3 linked regions of the Homo sapiens genome follow. The protein of the gene in region 1 interacts with the protein of each later gene in a pairwise test. Each region holds a gene or a part of one and is shown in the gene's direction. Other genes may lie near its edges.

Region 1 (7,276 bases):
GGCATGCCAGCATGCCCAGCCCTCCAAAAGTACTGGGATCACAGGCGTGCCACAAAGCCTAGCAAGTTTTATTCTTGACTTTTTAACTTAATCCTTTACATTTCTCTATGTTTAATAAATCATTGTGCATTCTGTTATTTAAGTATTTTTACTATGAGCAGCATATGGTTAAACTTTATTTTTTAACTCAGTGTAAGATCTTTTACCTTGGAATTTGTCAATCTTCCATGCTTACTTAGATGATTAGATTTTGCTCAATTTATCTGCTTGTTTTTCTTTTGTATCATTTTTATGATTCATTTTAACCTTACTCTTGCTTCCTGTTTTTTTAATATCTGTCTATTTTATGTAAGAGTATATATAATCCAGTAATTTTTGAGCTTTAATCCATGCCAGTTTTACCAGTGTTTATCTTTATATTTTCAAAATAAATATTGTCTAATAATAAAACATTTTTTACATCTCCATTACCTGAAATGAATAATTTAGTATACTTCTGCTCTGCCCAATCCCAGTTTTTTAGTGATAATGGAAGGCTAAGAGAGGTCTCACTTAGGAATAGATTGGAAAAGGAGGTAGAGGAGCTAGCAAGAAATACATTCAAGATGAACTGAAAGAGAAAAATCTTCTAGGATGGCTCTAGATCAAATTATTGTTGAGATATCAAGACTTAGGAATTTGAGAAGTGTATTCAAAGGCCGCAGTGTGAAGGCAGGCCTAAAAAGTAAAAATAAAATGGAGATAGAAGTCCTAAAAATAAATTAGTGCAGAGAAGATAAAAAATTAAGAATCTTGTGGAATATTTGGGGTTAGCATTAGTGAAGGCCTTTGGTTTATCTTTTTGGGATTGTTGGTATGTAGATCAAGGATATGTCAAGCTGGCTTAAAAGACTTCACTAGAGATAGTGTTGTAAGAATTTAAATCAGAAGAAATCCATGAGTGCTGATAAGTCAGAAACTTCATAGTACAAATGAAACTTCAACTGATTCTTAAAGGATAAAGAATTTATAGAGAGATACAGGGAAAGAAAAAATGCAATCTGTGTAAGAATCATAATGGATCCATAGTGAGGGGGAAAAGGTCAATAAGAAGAGACTGAATAAGATAGGTGTGATGGCTGTAGAATAGTGCTGACCGGAGTTTGTAGAAAGAACAAGGCAAAATAAATATGTATGTAACGATGATCTCATAAGTTTCTTTGTCTAGTTCTAGAGAAAAAAGCTGTCAACTTCTTGTATAGTCTGTAAGCTCCATGAAGAAAAAGATCATTTTTTCTCATTTTGACAAATATAAATCACTCACTTAGTAAAAATCTAGTGATACATGTTTAATATGTGTTGAAAGAAAATAAAGAAAAGAAGAATATAAGCTTTACTTATTTATTTGGTGGTTTGGTTTCACTGTCATATATGAACTATTAAATGCACATAGTAAATGCTGAATATGTTGAAGAAAAACAAATGTAGTAAAGGGATTTCTGTGATACCAAATGAAGAGGGATTTGTCTTGCAAGATTTTTACTTGGGTGTGTTTGTAATATAAATCTATTCCATTAGCATTATTGTCAGCATTCATAATATAATAATATGGAACATTGAAACAATTATCCATTTCCCATCATCAGATACTTCAGTCTACTCCACCCACATACCAGTAGGTAAAATGATATTTTAGTAAAGTGATATTTTATTACTAATGTAGGTATTACTAAAGATTACTGAAGATCATGGCAACATTTTCAAAACTTTTTGAAATTATATTTTTCTTAGCATGAGGTTCTAAATACTTTCACCAATAATATTTTTCAAAGAAAAGAGAAAATATAGACTGAACTATACAATTAATAAATAACATAAACAATAATTTAAAAATCAAAATATATACTAAATTTAATTACGTTATAAAATAGAATAAAAACATATAATTAGTCATCAATAGCTTTCAGATTAAACTGAATTTCTTAAAACTAAATTCAAGTGTTCTATTAATTGTTTCTCAAATTATGTATAGACATTTGCAATTGGAAAAGAAAGTAATGTGAAAGTTGAACCATTTTAACAGTGAAAAAATCATTCTGAAGTAAATACTGCCGCCTGCACAGAATGGTCTGTGTTTGCCAAAGCAAGAACTTGTTTGAGGCTGTGTGTTTTGGGTGGTGAAAAAGTGGTTACCTAGCAACAACTCCTCCTCCCAAGTCTCCCCTGCTAGAGCGGTATTTTGCACGTCAGTAAATTGGTTACTTGTTTGATGGATCTAAAAAGAATAATTCAGTAATGTGGTAGGGTGTGAATCTCAATCATAAAAACGTACAGGTTTTTCTCTGTGTGGGGTCTGTCTACTGCCCACTCCTCATCTGGTGTTGCTAGAAGCTTGTCTAAAGAGATTGAATAATACCTAAAATGTTATTCATCAAATGAAAATGAGGGAAACTTCAGGCATTTTAATTAATAACAGTTCTTTTCAGTTTGCTTATAAAGCAAGCAATGAAATAGTTACTTAGTCCACAATAGCATTAGCTCTGGGCAAGAGGTAATCTTATCACGATGTTTCCTCAGATGTCAGACAGCAAAGGATGGGGTGGGTTCCGTAGAAATAGAGTTTAAACAATCTGTACAGTTTACAGATAACAACATTATACCATCTGAAGGTAAAATTAATGAGATACTAATTTATAGAACAAACACATAAGGTATTTATGTTTACAACAAATGAGCTTAAACATATGTTAGCAATAACTTAGCTAGAAAATATATACTTTAGTAAACATCACACCATGTATTTGGTCCACCTATGATATGCATCACAAATAAATGCCACTTATTCTTTAACCTAATGGATATTTGTTTCTAGGGACAACCCTACAGGGTGCATGCATGCATAATTAAGGAAATAGGTAATCTGAATAAAGTGAAATGATAAAGACACAACCACAGACTCTGCCAGCAGAAAAATTAAATACAGCAAATTAGTTTGTGTGTTTTCAAAGCATGAAGATATAAAGTTTAAAAAAATCTGTTAGAGGAACACTCCAATGCCAAGTATGTGGGAGCAAATAGAATAGCAAAGAAAAAAGACTGGTTTATAAAATTTTCCATGATGCAAAGAACTGAAGCCAATTTCTCCCCAGACAGAGCCCTGATGCTCTGGGCTGCTGCTAGCCAATGTGCAGGGACCTGTCACTTGCACAGTAGCTTTCTGAGACTCACCCTGTATCCCTTCTCCCACATCCCAGCACACACTGAATGCCATTTCCTTATTAACTCCAGAGCAAAGAAATTCTTTGCAGAGCAATAATTGACAGTTGGAGTTACAGCTTGACTTCTTTCCTTTGAAAAATTGCTAAGCATTTGTTTTAGAAAGGCACACTCTTCAGATTCCAATGAATCAGAATCCGACACCATATTTTTCACAGTTTTTCACCTCCGAGAATATCATCAGTTTAGAAAAAGGAATGCTTTCCTTTGAAATAACCAATGTTACCAATGTTACTTTAGATGTTGGCCTGATTTTGGAAACTATTTTGTACAAACGTACTAGAAGTCAGGCCTTTTAACCATAAATGTCATTTCAGAAGCGCCTTATTATTTGCAAAAGTCATAACTGAGAGTGACTCTGAATATCCAAGGAATTATCCCCATCTGTTCCTAAGTGCTTTAACTGGTCAAATGTCAGATATTAAAGGGAAGAGAGCTGAGAGACCAGGAAAGATCAACTGTTCCAGCAAAATATTTAGACTAATAATTTATTAGAACATAAAGGATTATACTGGGAAAACTATCTTATATCAAATGCATCAATTTGTAGTGAATCTTTTCTAAATGTAATAAGTATCATAGGTATAACATGTCAAAGAAAAAAATTAAAAAGCAAGAAAACATGTTTTTGCATGTTAAAAAGAGTAATTTGAAGCAGAAACTTCTCCTCTGTAAGTTACGTTATTCTGAAAACTCAGAAACATATTTTTATTCATCTAGGTGATCAGGAGATTTTATATTAGGAACTGACAGGGATCAGTTTCGGGGCTTATCTCGGTGAGCCTCTGAGCCCCCACAAAACAGCAAAGCTAATCTCTAGTGGTCCAACAGTTAAAATAATTGATGAGCATGTGTTGAATCCTCAAGAGAGGAGGGAGGAAGCAAGAAGGAAAGCTTGAAGGGAGGAGGGGAGGGGGGCAGGTGCTGATTTCAGCCCTGTAGCGTCAGGATTGCGTCAATTCGGGTTCCAGCCACGTCTGGAGTCTCGGAGACGAGCTTCTCAGAAGAGCCAAAACAGGAACCGAGGTGGCAAATCACTGTGCGAGGGCGAGTGGACCTCCCTCTTTGCCTCCTCCCTGTTCCAGGAGCTGGTGCCCTGGGCTCTGCGCTGTTGTTTTCAGCGCTCCGAAAGCCGGCGCTTGAGATCCAGGCAAGTGAATCCAGCCAGGCAGTTTTCCCTTCAGCACCTCGGACAGAACACGCAGTAAAAAATGGCTCCGATCACCACCAGCCGGGAAGAATTTGGTAAGCAAGTTACTGAACTTATGACTGCGGTTATTCCTTGAATACTCTGGGGTGGACTGTTTATTCATTTATTTTTTGCCCGGTTGTTGAATACAGATTTCCTAGGTAGTTAATTTAAAAGGAAAATGAGAATGGCAGTCAGGCAATTGTGGCTTATTTCTGCAGCTTCTCTCCCTTCCTTGGTATCTCTCTCCCTGAAACTGTCTTCTGTTAGGGAGAATTTACCTTCAGGAAGTTCTTAAATTTTCAGGTACTTCTGTAAATTGCAGCATGTACTGAGTAAAGAAAAAGGGGTCTGTTTTTCCCATGTTGGTTTCATCTATTTTGTAGGTGATTCTTATTTGTAGGTAAATCTATATTTTATTAGGAGAAGATAAATATATCTCTGGTTACATTGGGGTTTGATCTTGGTTAAAAAAAGCAACTTGTCTATTGGGGTTTGGCAATGTATATTTTATTACAGGGCGTACCATATGGGTGTTTTTCTCTGCTATGTTTTTCTTGTATCCTTGAAATATGTTGCTAGTGAAAGACAGAATCATATGGTAGCAGGGTTAAAGAGAGTTTCAAAATGAACTGGCTCAGCCCATTTCATTTCACTGCTGAGCTAACCAAAGCCCAGAGAGATGAGGGAAGTATTATAGGTTGCACAATTAGCTAAAAGCTGCTGGAAACTTGAATTAGGGCTCCAATTTTCCCGTTCAGTTTTCCTTTTCTCACACCAAGTTTTTGGTTTCAGTACATAAAATTAGACGTACTTCATAGAGTAAAAAAGTACTATTTTTAGATCTCAGTATATTCCAAAGGAAAAAGGTCAGAATTTTACTTACACGTATTTTTTAAATCATGAAATTTCATAGAAGGTTGTGAAGAGGAGTGATATCTACAGATGTGTGATAATTGTTATTAAGCTGAGTAAAATAACTATGATCTTGACTTTCAAGATTGTAAGACCTTATCAGTAGAGAATACATAGGGAGTAGATAAGTGTTTCCACGTTATAGAAAATGTTTGCCATTTGACATAACTATTCAATAGGGACAATTTGTGATATTATGTTCATAAATGAATTTCTTTCCCAGCCTTCCATTTGGGTTATTGGGTTTATTTTGGTATGACATTTATTCCCAATTCTTCATTTGAAACCTGAATGATTTTCTAATATGGAGGAATTTTTAGAGACTGTGCCAGTGAAAATATGTTCTAGCATGGACTATCAGTCTACTTTTAAAAAATGATTTTCTACTGTTTTTATTGTTTTTACATTGGCTAAAGAACTCTCTCAGTTCATGACTTTGCTTTTGCTCCCTGGCCTTGGGTTATTATGGTCCAGGAATGTGGGTGCATTTTTTTTTCACAAAGACTTGAATAGAAGGAAAAACTGAAAAGCTGATACCAAGTTTAGCTGATTATCTTTAGCTCTTGCTTTATACTGTAGTAGTCACTGTTTCTTTTTTCCACCTGGAGAAGTCAAAGGTTTATTTCATCTTTACATGATTCAGTTTCTGTACATTAAAATACAGGATTTTTATTGCGATTTTATTGGCCTTTTTATCTTCTATTTCATTTGTCTTTTCTTAACCTTACATTCTCTGAGTTCAGTTTTATAATTGTGAAGTAGATTGGCAGAAGATTTGGGGGGATGGGGAAGGGAAGTAACAAAAGACTGGATTTCTTGTGGTTATTTAGAAAAGTTTTAACCCTTTCTGGGCTGGAACTTATAACTTTATTATTTACTATTCAGGATAAAAGCATATTGCAATGGAACTAAATGTATATAATATTACATTAGTTATTTTCACTTTGATGATATTAAGCATTGACTCTATGGATTCACTATGTATAGATGTAGTAATACTGCTTTTACTTCCATAGTGTTACTAACCATTTGTTCAAGAAAGATGCTTACATATAAAATAGGATAAGCCTTATGCATAATTGATATTACCTAATGTCAGTAATTTAATGTGCCATCATTCAAGAAAATAATGACAATTTCAGTTTGATTATCATTTGCCATGCCATGTGCTAGAGGAAGAGACAGTTATAGATAAAATTGAACTCTAAATCTCACTGTTCTCATTACATGTTAAAGAATGCTGATTCACTTATAACCATTGTTCTGTTTTTATCTTATTTAAGTTTAATTAATTTATACTTTGTATAATTCAGTGTTTGACTGAGAAATTTGGGATTGTCATACAAAGGGATGATAGTGTTATAAGTTACAAAATATCGGTACCTTGTTGCTCTTCTGTTTTTGTTTTACTTTCTCTAATATATGTATATTTCTTTTACCACTGTTCCATAATTGGGATGAAAATTATTAATGAGTTTGTGGCAATGGCAAATATCATTTCACAATCAATTTCCTACAATTGAGTGAACCACTGAGTCCCTAAATGTTTGCTGCTTGAATTCTGAGTAAAGAACTACTTAGAATTCCAGTAAAAAGTGATGCTCTGGAAAGCCTCAAAATGACAATAAAAAATAATGAAGTTAGTACTGATCCATCATATTGTAGCTGTCTCATGTTATCTGAGAAAACAAAGATAGGTCAGAGTCATTAAGCATTCCCCCATATCTGATTCAGGACCATTTTCATCTTTTTATTTCATTAATGAAAAACCACTGAAATGAAGGAATTTCTAGCACACTTTATGTTTTTCCTGTGGGGATGTATTTGTACCCGAAGTTAGTGTGAAATATACACTTAACTCATACCCAGAACAGTTGGAAAGTAATTCAATCTATCCAACCTATAGCAATTGCTAGC
Region 2 (7,114 bases), on another chromosome or scaffold:
AGCAAATTGGTCCTGAGTTGATAATTATGAAAGAAGCTAGCTTATGGGTCCATAGGGATTCATTATATTCTCTCTACTTTTGTATAGATTTAAATTTTCCCATAAAAATATTTTAAAAAATAGTCCGGGCATGGTGGCTCACGCCTGTAATCCCAGCACTTTGGGAGGCCGAGGTGGGTGGAATCACGAGGTCAGGAGATCGAGACCATCCTGGCTATCACGGTGAAACCCCGTCTCTACTAAAAATACAAAAAAATTAGCCAGGCGTGGTGGCGGGCGCCTGTAGTCCCAGCTACTCAGGAGGCTGAGGTGAGAGAATCGCTTGAAACCAGAAGGTGGAGGTTGCAGTGAGCCAAGATTGTGCCACTGCACTTGAGCCTGGACGACAGAACAAGACTCTATCTCAAAATAAATAAATACAATAATATAAAATAATTATATTATTATAGTTTGGTTAAAACATTAGTTGACTATGGTCAGTTCATTGTTGGGGCAGAAGTGGGAGATGCGGGGGTATATGTGAATGAGGATAGCCTTGAGTTGATTGTTGGTTTAACTAAGTGTTTATTACTCTCCACTTTTATATATGTTTGAAATCCCCCATTTAAAAAATCAGTACAAGGCCAGGTGCGGTGGCTCATGCCTGTAATCCCAGCATTTTGGAAGGCCAAGGCAGGCAGATCATGAGGTCAGGAGATCGAGACCATTTTGCCTAACACGGTGAAACCCCGTCCCTACCAAAAATACAAAAAAAAAAAAAAAAATTAGCCGGATGTGGTGGCGGGCACCCCAGCTACTCGAGAGGCTGAGGCAGGAGAATGGCGTGAACCCAGGAGGTGGAGGTTGCAGTGAGCTGAGATCGTGCCACTGCACCCCAGCCTGGGGCGATAGAGCGAGACTCCGTCTCAAAAATAAATAAATAAATAAAATAAAATAAAAAATCAGTAGATTGTGAAAAAACATAGTAACTTGGATGGAGGGCATTGAATGCTACCTCTGTGTAGTTTCTTGGCTAGTGTTTTGGCCTGTAAGTTCGTAAAACTGGTAGAAAACCTAGGTTCTCAAGTTAGGACAACCCTCCTTCTGCAAGAAAAATGTAGAATGTCACTCTCAAGTCATACAAGAATACAAGTTCCCTGAGGGCAGAGACCTTATCTCTCTTATCCATGTTGGTATGTCCTGCTACTAGTAAGTATTTGTTTAGTTAACCAGTCATCATAAAGTACCGTAAGGATTTTACAAATGCTAGATGATTTCTGGGAATGTGGTCAAAATTTAAATACTTTCAGCATACTTCTGTTTCCACATGTTTCCAACATGTGGAAGTTCCTAATAACTTCAAGAATAATTTTTGTGACTTAAGTACAAGTCTTTATGGCATGGTTTTAGCCTATCTTTCTTTCCTGAAACAATTCCTATTTAACAGTGATGGTAAGTTTCGTAAGAACAGGGACAGTGTTTCTTTTGTTCATTGCTGTCTCCCAAGCCCAGCCCATATTGGGTCCTCACAAGTATTTGCTGAGTGAACTTTTAGTGCAACTTATAGAACCCTTTCTAATGTGTTTTTCTCTCTCTCCCACCAACCTTCTCAACCCTAGCCTCACAGCATGGAACCACAGGTTACTCTAAATGTGACTTTTAAAAATGAAATTCAAAGCTTTCTGGTTTCTGATCCAGAAAATACAACTTGGGCTGATATCGAAGCTATGGTGAGTGTTACTTTATTTTGTTTCTCCTTGGTTTAAGCATGGTTATTTTTTCCAAAGGTAGCTATTTTTAGCAGTGTTGTTTCATAGCTGTGAAGTCTGTCATAGTTACCATTTCTGGGCCTTTTGGAAAATTGCTTTTGATAGGGTTTCAGTATTCATATATGAGATGTGCCCCAATAAAGGGAACCAACACATAAATTTCCTTTTGAACATTTTAGAAAGGGAAGGTAAAATTGTTTTTAGTGAGATAGGATTTAGAAAACCTATTAATTTTAGAACCAGTATGAGGAGTGAATTGGTGTGGACTCCACCCAACCAGATCCCAAGGAAATGTTCTCTTGTGTGAGGATATGACTTGTGTTTTGCACAAGGATATAACTTGTGTTTTGCAAGAGCCTATCAATTGTTTTTATTGCTAGGTCAGAGGTTGAGTATCTCAGAGTTGAGCAGGAAAAACTTTCATACCTGCTTAGACAGCAGTTCACCTGTTCCGTTTTTTTGCTAAGGCTTTTCCTCCTCTTGGTTTGCCCTTTGTACTCTTCTGTTTTTGTTCAGTTTGCAGTGGTGAATGTTTTACTTCCTGTGTTGACTGTGTTTCTCTCTGAAACCCTTTGGTAAAAATCTACGTTTACCTGGTTATATCTGATGATAACTAAAAAGGGAAAGAAATGGTAGATCTTAAAAGATGATCTGAGGTAGTTGTCTGCCTTCCAGCAAATACCTGTTCATACTGTCCTATCAGTGACAGTGAGACCCGTCTCAAAAAAAAAAAAAAGATTGGATTCAGAAAGAAGTTAGATCTTGTTTGCCAAAAGATGTGAAAATCAGTTATCTTTCTTTTCCTAGTAGTTAAATGAGCTGACAGCTTGCCTTTTTTCTTCCTTGTAAATTTTAAATTGTATAAGTATAATACATGCCCATTTTAAGAAGAGAAACCATCTCAAGCAGTTAATAGCCCTCCATTCTCCCCCCCCTCATCTGTTACTCCCACCTTCTTTGGGTAACCAATGTTAACAGCCCTGTATGTACTTTAAATTTTCCATGTTCATGCAGATATCATACTAGGATCATACTATAAACATTATTTGGCCAGGCACAGTGGCACACGCCTAGAATCCCAGCACTTTGGGAGGCCAAGATGGGTGGACCACTTCAGCTCAGGAGTTTGAGACCAGACTGGGCAACATGGTAAAACCCCATCTCTACCAAAAAAATACAAAAATTAGCTGGGCCTGGTAGCAGGCACCTGTGGTTCCAGCTACTCCGGAGGTTGAGGTGGGCGAATTGCTTGAGTGCTGGAGGTTGAGGCTGCAGTGAGCCAAGATCAAGCCACTATAATCCAGCCTGAGCGACAGAGTGAGACCCATCTCAAAAAAAAAAAAAAAAAGATATTTTTCGTTTTTTTTTTTTCTTATCTTGAAACTTCAGGAGATATCCATCTATACACATAACTTATACACTGTTCTACAGGATAAACTCTGTCCTATACAAATGTGAGATTAATGGGTCACAAAGCATTTTATTTGAAATTTTAATAGATTCTGCCAAATGCTTTGCAGAACAATTGTAGCAGCACACAGAAATACATGACAGTGTCCTGAAGTTTTGACAACACTGGATGTTATGGCTTTAAAAAACATTTGCTGTTCCCTACCCCACACCCCACCCAAAACACACACACACACACACACACACACACACACACACACACACACACACAGTTTGGTATTCTGATGAGATGTCATCTCATTGCTTCAATTTGCATTGTTCTGACCACCAGAAAGTTTGAAAGTCTTCTGATGTATTTGTTAGGTGTTCTGATTTCCTCTTGTATGAATTTTATGTATATTTTTACCTGGGTTGTTAATTGTATCATTAGCAGTTTTGCTGGTACTCTGGGTGTGTTGCAGATATTAACCCTTTGTTATGGGTTATTAAGGTTGTTTGTTGTTTGTCTTTTGATTTTGTGGGTTTTTTTTACTTTGACTTCTGTGTACATTATAACCTGCCTTTAAATATGTATCTCTTTTATAGGTAAAAGTTTCATTTGATCTGAATACTATTCAAATAAAATACCTGGATGAGGAAAATGAAGAGGTAAAATATATTATGGCACTTATTGCTAGGTGTTCAGAATAGGGATCTTATTTCTCCAGTGATATGGGCTTTAATAATTCAAAATAGTGTTTAGCTTATTTGTGTGGTGGTTTAAATATATTTGATAACTGAATATTCTAAGAAGACTTGCAGCATCTGAGATGGAGTTGAGAAATGGAGAAGCAACACTGAAGAATATCTCAGAGATAACTTTCACTTAAAAAAAAAAAAAGGAAACAGGGTCTCACTATGTTGCTCAGGCCAGTCTTGAACTCCTGGGCCCAAGCAGTCCTCCCACCTCAGCCTCCCAAAGTGCTGGGATTATAGGTGTGAGACACCCACCATGCCTGGCCTGGCCTGAGAGAACCTTTTTTTTTTTTCTTTTTTTTTTTTTGTGAGATGAAGCCTCACTCCATAACCTAGGCTGGAGTGCAGTGGTGCGATCTCTGCTCACTGCAACCTCCAGCTCCTGGGTTCAAGTGATTCTCCTGTCTCAGCCTTCTGAGTAGCTGGGATTACAGGTGTATACCACCACGCCTGGCTAATTTTTGTATTTTTAGTAGAGACGGTATTTCACCATGTTGGCCAAGCTGGTCTCGAACTCCTGGGCTCAAGCGATCAGCCCACCTCGGACTCCCAAAGTGCTGGGATTACAGTTGTGAGCTACCACACCTGGCCAAGATAACTTTTAAAATTATATAGTGACCTTAAGTTCACATATAGCACAAGCTACCACTTAGTTTATAATAATACAAATATAATGGCTAAGCTTTTTTTTTTTTTTTTTTTAAAGAGGGTCTCACTCTGTTGCCCAGGCTGGTGTGCATTGGCATAGCTTGCTGCAACCTAGAGCTCCTGGGTTCAAGGAATCCTCCCATCTCAGCCTTCTGGGTAGCTAGGACATACCTCTCTGCATCTGGCAAAATTTTTTAATTCTTTGGAGGGATGGAATCTCACTTTGTTGCTCAGGCTAATGGCTAAGCTTTATTGAGTGGTTACAGTGTGTCAGACTAGCCACAGTACCATGTATTGAGTACATTATTATCATCACTATTTTACTCATGAGGAAACTGAGGCACAGAGAGGTGAAAATAACTTGTCCAAATGCACAAAAACTTGGAAGTAGTAAAGTAGCCGTTCAGTCCATACCCTCTGGCTGTAGAACTCAAGCTCCTAACTGTTATATTGCACTGCCTTTTAATGTATCTGAAATAAAGGAGGGCACAGTAGATAAGCAATAAAATTTCTTAAGTGTTATTCATGACTAGCAAGTGATATGGAAAAGCTGAACGCTTGGCCTGAGTTTTTGTCTGTCCTATGGGGCTGGTCCTAGTAACAGAAATGCTCAACTGATGAGACACTTATAATTCACTGTTGCTTTTTTTCCTTTTATAGGTATCCATCAACAGTCAAGGTGAGTCCCTAAGAGAGTCTGTTCAGCCTTGTTTAAAAACCTTAATCTGCTCATTGAGGCATTTCTATTTATACTCAAACCTTATTGCAGTATTAATTTTAGAGTGACATTGCACTGATGGACATTAGTTACCTAGGGGATTTTATTGTATAGCAGTTTTTTATATATAGGATGATGCCTTTGAATGGACCCTAAGGACAGCTTTAATGGGAGGTTCTCATATTTAAGATGCCAGTCCTCTGAAATTAATATGCCTCCCAGTTCAACACATATAAGTATTCCCATGGTGTTGCATTTGTTTCTGACTTGGTATATATGTTAATATCAACTTATAAAACAAGTGGTATTCCAAAAGTTTATTTATCAGATGTTCAGAGCTTGGAGTGCATTTTCCCATAGGAACCATGTTATAGTTGAAGATTAGTTTCCCACGATAGCCCCTAAAATCTTAATTTAATCAGGTGAAATGATAGTATTAACATTGAACTCTCAGTGCGTAAATGTGAGGGACCTGGGTTGAGATTTTGTAACTGGAAGATTCCCAGTAGTGATGAAGGAGGGATTTAAGGGGAAGAACTGATCTACAGTAGATGCTGTTTGCAACAAAAAGGGAGTTTGTCAGCAAAAAGATAGTTGCTGTTCATATATAATAAGCTAAGAATTCTTTAAAGTCAGGATTAGCTGTACATTTAACAAATTTTTATTGTATATATTGAAGGTGCACAACATGATGTTATGAAATACATATACAGTAATGCATCGCTTAATGACAGAGATTTGTACTGAGAAATGCATCAATTAGGTGATTTTGTCATTATATGGACATCATAGAGTGTACTTACACAAACCTAGATGGTATAGCCTAGTACACACCTAGGATATATGGTATAACCTATTGCTTATAGGCTGCGAACCTGTAGAGCATGTTACTGTGCTGTATACTATAGACAGTTGAAACACAATGGTATTTGCATATCTAAACATAGAAAAGGTACAGTAAAAATGTGGCATTATAATCTTATGGGATCACCATCATACACATGGTTGACCAAAATGTTATGTGGCAATGGTTACTGTAGTGAAGCAAATTAACATATCTATCATCTCATTATAGTGGCCCTGTGGTGCCCTGAGCCCTCCCCAGAAACCAGCCATAATCTACTCATTTAGCAAAAATCATGAATATAATTTACGATTATTTAACTATAATATGTTCCTCATGTTGTACAGTCCATCTTTAGGATTGGCTATCCTTAATCTTATGGAATCTTTGGTTCTTGAATGAATGAATGGATGTGTACAAAATAAAAATAATTTTAAAATAATAGAATCTTTTGGGGTGTGTGAAGAAGTATCATGGTGTATATTTTTTGTTCTTTTAGGAGAATATGAAGAAGCGCTTAAGGTAATGATTATTTAATCTCATTTTTAAATAATTTAAAAAATATTATTATGGGTTGGTTTTTTTTCTTTTTTTGAGATGAGGTTGTGCTCTGTCATCCAGGCTGGTGTGCAGTGGCACAATCTGGGGTTGCTGCAGTCTTCACCTCCCAGGCTTAAGTGATCCTCCCACCTCAGCCTCCCGAGTAGCTGGAACTACAGAAACACGTCACCACGCCCGGCTAACTTTTTATATTTTTCTTAGAGACAGGGTTTCACCATGTTTCCCAGGCTGGTCTGGAACTCTTGGGCTCAAGCAATCTGCTGGCCTTGGCCTCCCAAGTGCTGGGATTATAGGCATGAGCCACTGCGTCTGGCCTAAAATATTTATTGACTGAAACTCAAACCTGAATTCCATTAGTTATGGGGAGAGACTAGTACGTATAAACACAGTGAAACCTGTTTATAGGGAGACTGATGAATGGGCACGACACTCAGCAAAAGGCAATTCATA
Region 3 (7,114 bases), on another chromosome or scaffold:
TCCTCCACCTCCCAGGTTCAAGCAATTCTTGTGCCTCTGCCACCTGGGTAGCTGGGATTACAGGTCCCATGACCACACCCAGCTAATTTTTGTATTTTTTTTTTTATAGGGGTGGGGTTTCTCCATGTTAGCCAGGCTGGTCTCAAACTCCTGGCCTCATGTGATCCGCCTGCCTCAGCCTTCCAAAGTGCTGGGATTACAGGTGTAAGCCACCTCACCCCGTCCCTTTTTAATCCTTTCTGTGTAGTTGTGTTCATAACCATACTCCATTTTACTTGCTTTTTTCCATCAATATTATAAGCAATTTTTCATGTTATTAAAACAATCCTTATAATCACCATTAAAAGATTTTTTCTGATTATAAGAATATACAATTGCTATAGAAAATTTGGAAATCTGGAGAATTATTAATATGAGGTAGAAACAATTCTTTGGCCCAGAAGCAATACTGTTAATATTTTATTCACTGATTCAACAACTATTTGAGGGTCTGCTTTTGGGTAGAGAAAGAATGTTTTGGGGGTGTTTGTTTTAGAGGTGGGGTCTTGCTCTGTTGCCGAGGATGGAGTACAGGAGCTATTCACAGGTGCAATCATAGCACACTACAGCCTTGAACTCCTGGGCTCAAGCATCCCCCCTGCCTCAGCCTCCCATGTAGCTGGGACTCCACAGAGGAATGTTTTTTAAAGACCACAGTGTGAAAAACTGATTGTAGTTTATTGGTCACACCTTCTTTAGAAGAAAGCTTATTATTATAAATAACATATACCTACACATTTCTCATATAATGTATACAACATTTTCTGACTTGCTTCTCCCTCCCCTCACTTAATATGTCACAGACATTTTTCCTGTCTCACTAAATACTGTGTCAGTTCGAGTGTTTTAGTTTCTGTGGGGCTTTTGTATTTAGAAAGGATTGTTGGGCAATTTGGATTTAAAATTAATATACTATTTATTATAGTTGCAAATTTAAAAACCTAATTGTTTTTCATTCTTGAGGTTCAATTTATAAATAGGATAAAAAGATTAGTAAATTGAATTACTTTTTGCATAAAAATAAGGAACAATCATTTTCTCTTGTTCTTTGATGAATGTTCGGTAAACTCTAATGGAAAGGATTACATTGTCCTAAACAGTAATACCCATTTGCAAATTTAGTTAATACATCTCTTTAAGCAGTTTAGTCACATTTATAAATTGAACATATTTGATATTTGAGTTTTTTCAATTCTTCAAATCCCCAGTGCATAGGCAGATTAACCTATCAAGCAAAATGTTCCTAAGCACTTAAATGACTCTTGTTTACTCAAGCCCAAAACTTCAGTGTCATCCCCCAGTCTAATTCTCTAATGTCCAGTCTGTTAGCAAGTTCATCCTGCTTTCGTTTCTCCATATATCCCACATCTCATCACTGCCTCTATGACTGTTACCCTAGTCCAAGGCACAATTATCTCTTGCCTGGACATCTACAGTCACCTCCCAACTGGTTTGATAACATTCTTGCAGTGCACTAGCGTTCCCAACATGCTAAGTGATGAGAGTGCATATTTTTAAATGTAAATCAGACACATCAAGTCTCTGCTCAGAATGACCCAGTGGCTTCCCATCACAGTGAGAGTAAAAACCCCAACTCCTTCCATGCTCTGCGAGGCGTTATGTGATCACAGTCTGCATGCACTGTCCTAGTCACAGCCCTGTTGACTCTGACTTGGCCACATTGGCCTTCTTGCTTTTCCTTGAACAGTGAACATACTCCCAACTCAGTCTCTGCACTAGCTGTTTCCCCAGATTTGGCATGGCTCACACACCTTCACTTTATTCAAGTGCCCATCTGGTGGCTCTTCAGGTGGTCTAGTCTATAAGAGCCCTGTTCCCTCTCATACTCCATACTCTTCCCCTGCTCTGGTTTTTTCCTTGATGGCACTTAACTACCTCTGCTTAACATTTTTTTTATATTATTTAATTTATTGTATGTTTCCCCAAATACCATGTTGGAACAGTGCCTACCACATAGTATTTCTGCAATAGATTTTTGTTGAATGAATGGATGTACATATACATTTTACTTGAAACAAACATTATTTTTTGGGTATGATAATCAGTTTTCTTCACTTTAGCTGATCCAAAAATGGCATCTTCTGCTACTCCTTTATAGCTTTCTAATGAATTTGAAACTAGATTTACCTCTGAATTACATTGCAATTTCAACCTGTCCTTTTTAGTACTTTGACCCACTGAATCATTTGTTACAGTTTTGTGGGGTTTTTGGGGCAGGGGCGGAGGGGTGTTTTTTTTTTTTGACACAAGGTCTTGCTCTGTCACCTAGGCCAAGTGTAGTGCCGTGATCATAACTCACTGCAACCTCAAAATCCTGGGCTCAAGCTATCCTTCTGCCTCAGCTTCCTGAGTAGCTGGGAGTATAGGTGCATGCCACCACACCCAGCTAATGTTTTTGTTTTTGAGAGAGAAGGTGTCAAACTCCTGGCCTCAAGTGATCCTCCAACCTTGGCCTCCCAAAGCACTGGGATTATATGTGACAGCCACTGTGCCTAGCCTGTTACAGTCTTCTAAAATATTATTTCTCTAAATAAATTGCTAGCTGTCAATGGCAGATAATATTTTCTTCAAAGTAAGTCCTTCCTAATGTTTATTTTCTGCTCCAGAAAAATCAGAATATTAGGAGACTGTGTTCTAAGAAACTACAAACTGCATTAATTGGGTAGTTTCTCTTATGTTACAGAATGTTACTTTTCTTTATACCCTTTCTCTGTTAAAATGTGTTCATTATAAGCAGAAGACAAGATTGTTTTGATTTTTAAAACTCAGCTTTTATTTAACACATTTCACTGAGTATTCATTGCTTCATTTAATATTGATTCTAACATTTTACAAAGATGCCTTGTTGGAAAATTCCATATGTGGAATGTGGAAATAAACTATGTATTACTCTTGGTGAATGAGGAACTGCTCAGCATGTTCATTATAGAAAATTCAAAAAATAACAAAAGAAATAAGAATAGCCTGTTATCCCACCACTTGTAGAAACCACTGCTATTAATATTTTGATACACATTTGACCTTCAGTATCTGTGGGTTCTGCATCCATGGATTAAACCAACATTAGATGGAAATTATATCAGAAAAAAGTTCACAAAGTTCCAAAAAGCAAAACTTGGATTTGCTGTGTGCCGAGTATTATGTTGAATCCACATGAATGAAGTCATATGCAGACATCATATTAGGCATTATAAGTAACCTGGAGATGATTTAAAGTATACAGGAGGTTGTGCATAAATTATATGCAAATGCTACATTTGCATATCCACAAATGATCATTTGTGGATTTTGGCATCCACAGGGTGTCCTGGAATCAATCCCCCATAGACACTAGGGACAACTGTTTATTCTTATCTCCTCGATTTCTATGCATATATATTCTTTTGTTTTTGTTATTAATGTAATTGAGCTTTTTGAAGAAGTAGCCTGGGTTTGCAAGTTATTTTAACTTTTGGCAGCCTGGTTTTCTCACTTACTATATTTGGATAATAATATTTATCACGAGTTGTTATAAGGATCAAATAGGTTAATATTTGTAAAGTGTATAGATTAGTGCCCATGACTTATAAATGCTATCTATAAGTATTAAATAAATTAGGCAAATAACCCGCTTTTAAAACATATATGGTGAACATTTTCTCAAGTCATAAAATATTCTCTGTCTCTCTCTCTCTTCTCTTTTTTTAGAAATGGGATCCCCCGCTGTCCAGGCACGATCATGGCTTTCTGCAGCCTTGAACTCCTGGGCTCATGTGATCCCTGCCTCAGCCTCCCAAGTAGCTAGGACTACAGGTGCCTGCCACCATGCCTGGCTAATTTTTGCATTTTTTGTAGACATGGGGTCTCATGTTGCCCAGGCTGGTCTCGAACTCATGGCCTCAAGCGATCCTCCCACCTTGGCCTCCAGAAGTGCTAGGATTACAGGTGTGAGGCACCATACCTGGCCAAAATATTATCTATAGCATAAATGTTAATAATGCCTTAGTCTTCCATCATATGGATATGCCATGAGCTATTCCCTTTATTTTTGGTTTTGTTCTTTCCATTCTTTCACTGTTATAAATAAAGCTCTGATAAATATCCTTGTACATGAGTATTCATATCCTCATTTCCTTAAATGGAAATGGATCCACCAGGAGTATACATGTTTTATAAGTTTTTGATACCTGCTGCCAAATTGCCCTCTAGAAGGGCTATACCAATTTATATTCTCAGGATAAATATATTGAATAGTATATGAGTACTGATTTCTCTTTAAGTTCACTGATTCTGGGTTTTATTTTTTAAAATCTTTGCTAATTTAGCAAGTAAAAAATTATACCTTAATGTGCATTGCCTTGATTAAACTTCATTGTTTGCCACTATAATTTTTTCTTTGTTGACATCTCTTGATGTTTTTTGTCCAGTTTTCTATTGGATATTTGACTTTTTCTGATTTGTAATGATAGATGAACCTTTTTTCTGTATATTACAAATATTTTCCCCTGTTTCTTTTAGTCTTTAATCCTGTTTATAGTGTTTTAGGACATACACTTTTCAATTTTAAAAACAATTTTAATTTTTTGGGTACATAGTAGGTGTATATATTATGGGGTGAGATGTTTTGACACAGGCATGCAATATGTGATCATCACATCATGGAAAATGGGGTACCCATCCCTTCAAGCATTTGTCCTTTGTGTTACAAACAATCCAATTATACTCTTTTAGTTGTTTTAAAATGTACAATTAAGTTATTATAGACTATAGTCACTGTGTTGTGCTGTCAAATACTAGGTCTTATTCATTCTTTCTGACTATTTTTTTTTATACCCATTAACCATCCCCACCTCCCCCTAATCCCCAAACCAACCCCACTACCCTTCCCAGCCTCTGGTAATCATTCTTCTACTCTCTATCTCCATGAGTGCAATTGTTTTGAGTTTTAAGTATCACAAATAAATGAGAACATGCAATGTTTGTCTTTCTGTACCTGGCTTATTTCACTTAACGTAATGATCTCCAGTTCCATCCATGTTGTTACTAATGACAGGATGTTGTTCTTTTTTATGGCTGAATAGTACCCCATTGTATTTAAGTATCACATTTTCTTTACTCATTCATCTGTTGACAGACACTTAGGTTGCTTCCAAATTTTGGCTGTTGTGAACAATGCTGCAACAAACATCGGAGTGCAAAAGTCTCTTCGATATACTGATTTCCTTTCATTTAGGTTATACCCAGCAGCATCATTGCTGAATCATATGGTAGCTCAATTTTTAGTTTTTTGAGGAACTTCCTAACTGTTCTCTATAATGGTTGTACTAACTTACATTCCCACCAACGTGTTTGAGGGTTCCCTTTTCTCCGTATCCTCCCAGCATTTATTATTGCCTGTCTTTTGTATAAAAGCCATTTTAACTGGGATGAGATAATATCTCATTGTAGGTTTTTTTTACTGCTCCTTGTGGACCAGAGCGGTAGCCTTAATCTCAGCACTTTGGGAGGCCGAGGCGGGCAAATCACTGGAGGCCAGGAGTTCGAGACCAGCCTGGACAACATGGTGAAACCCCGTCTCTACTAAAAATAAAAAAATTAGCCCGGCATGATGGCATGCGCCTGTAATCCCAGCTACTCGGGAGGCTGAGGCAGGAGAATCACTTGAGCCCAGGAGGCAGAGGTTGCAGTGAGCCAAGATATCACCACTGCACTCCAGCCTGCGCCACAGAGCAAGACTCTGTCTCAAAAAAAAAAAAAAAAAAAAAGACCCAAGAGTCTGTTTTGCAAGTAAAACTCTCTGGTGTGGCAATCTGAAAGATATGATTTTTTTTTACCCCTTATTTAATAATAAAATAACAAGGGTTATATTTGCCTAGCAGACTATAAACATTTCCTTATTTCTTATAATTCTTTATAAACTGCCATAATGGGTATAGTTTATTATTTATTAATTCCCTGATTCTTGCATGTAGGCTTGCTAGGATAAATATTTTCAGATTTTGTGTATTGTGATAAAAATTATCTTTTCCTTTTTTGGAGCATTTTCCATTTCTCCATGAGCTCTTCACTTCCTCACTTAAGTAACTGAATAGGCATAAGCTTGGGACTATGGTTCCTTAAATATCATTTTAACCTTCCGGAGTCTTGACAGCAATTTTTTGAATAAAATTTTTCTTTAGTTAAGCTGACTCAGTGAGGTAAAAGTTAAATATTTCAGCTGTGCCGTAAGCTCACATAAAGCCCCTTGATAAGTGACAGCCTTGACTTTAACAGCTAATCCCTCCTCTGAGTGGTTAGTGGAGCCTGGCTCACCACTATCGTCTCATAAGGGCTTCAGCGCTCGTGTGCTCATATGAATGGTTACAGTTTATTGGTCCAGGTCACTTTCACTAATCCCCAGCTTCCTTTAGAGGATGTAAGACAGACACTGACCTAGCTTGTACAGCCTTCTGCATTCTTCATTGTATAAGCTGATCATGATACAATTATCTTTAGACATAAACATAGCAACTGTAATCATATTTTATCTCTATTCAGACTGGTTTTTAGTCAGTTACCTAGCTATATCTATCAATTACTGCTAGCAAATATTCTTAGGTTTACATAGCAACAAAAATTTTTTCTCATTAGCTTTAGTTTTAGTTATTCCACTGAAACATCCTCCTCTTGTCCTTTTCTCTGCAGCTAGATAATCACTTTTCCCCCCACCCCCGGGCTGCAGTTCTGTGGCTGTCTTCTCATTTTCTTTTCCCCCAATAAGGTCATCTCTGTCTTGTGAGCTCCAGGTCTTAGAGGCTGGGACAAATTCTGTCTTCCCTTCTTTCCCATGTAAACCCCTCAGCTTAGCTTCCTGCACTCTGTCCCACAAACTTTGATTCCTCCTTTCCCTGTCATTAGCAGCAGCATCGGTGGTCTCTTCCCTTTCAACTCCAGGTATCCAGCTTTTAGGTCTGATTTCTGGAACATATCCTCTTAAATTGTTAAGCACTTATGACTGAAATATTTGTGAATTGGGGGTCGATTTAACTTTTTTCTCAAGACAGGGTCTCACTATGTTGCCCAGGCTGGTCCTGAG

Evidence for each region.
Region 2: the proteins of SYT4 (region 1) and NBR1 interact in binary tests that used the Homo sapiens proteins (3 or more experiments, as listed by UniProt).
Region 3: the proteins of SYT4 (region 1) and NDUFA12 interact in binary tests that used the Homo sapiens proteins (3 or more experiments, as listed by UniProt).

What each region holds. Positions count from the first base shown.
Region 1 is NC_000018.10:43,274,472-43,281,747, reverse strand, and holds the start of SYT4 (synaptotagmin-4), read left to right. Parts: upstream 1-4,257; 5' UTR 4,258-4,466; coding exon 4,467-4,500; intron 4,501-7,276. UniProt on the Homo sapiens protein: Synaptotagmin family member which does not bind Ca(2+). Involved in neuronal dense core vesicles (DCVs) mobility through its interaction with KIF1A.
Region 2 is NC_000017.11:43,174,193-43,181,306, forward strand, and holds part of NBR1 (next to BRCA1 gene 1 protein), read left to right. Parts: intron 1-1,598; 5' UTR 1,599-1,607; coding exon 1,608-1,709; intron 1,710-3,743; coding exon 3,744-3,806; intron 3,807-5,201; coding exon 5,202-5,220; intron 5,221-6,602; coding exon 6,603-6,625; intron 6,626-7,114. UniProt on the Homo sapiens protein: Ubiquitin-binding autophagy adapter that participates in different processes including host defense or intracellular homeostasis.
Region 3 is NC_000012.12:94,972,659-94,979,772, reverse strand, and holds part of NDUFA12 (NADH dehydrogenase [ubiquinone] 1 alpha subcomplex subunit 12), read left to right. Parts: intron 1-7,114. UniProt on the Homo sapiens protein: Accessory subunit of the mitochondrial membrane respiratory chain NADH dehydrogenase (Complex I), that is believed not to be involved in catalysis. Complex I functions in the transfer of electrons from NADH to the respiratory chain.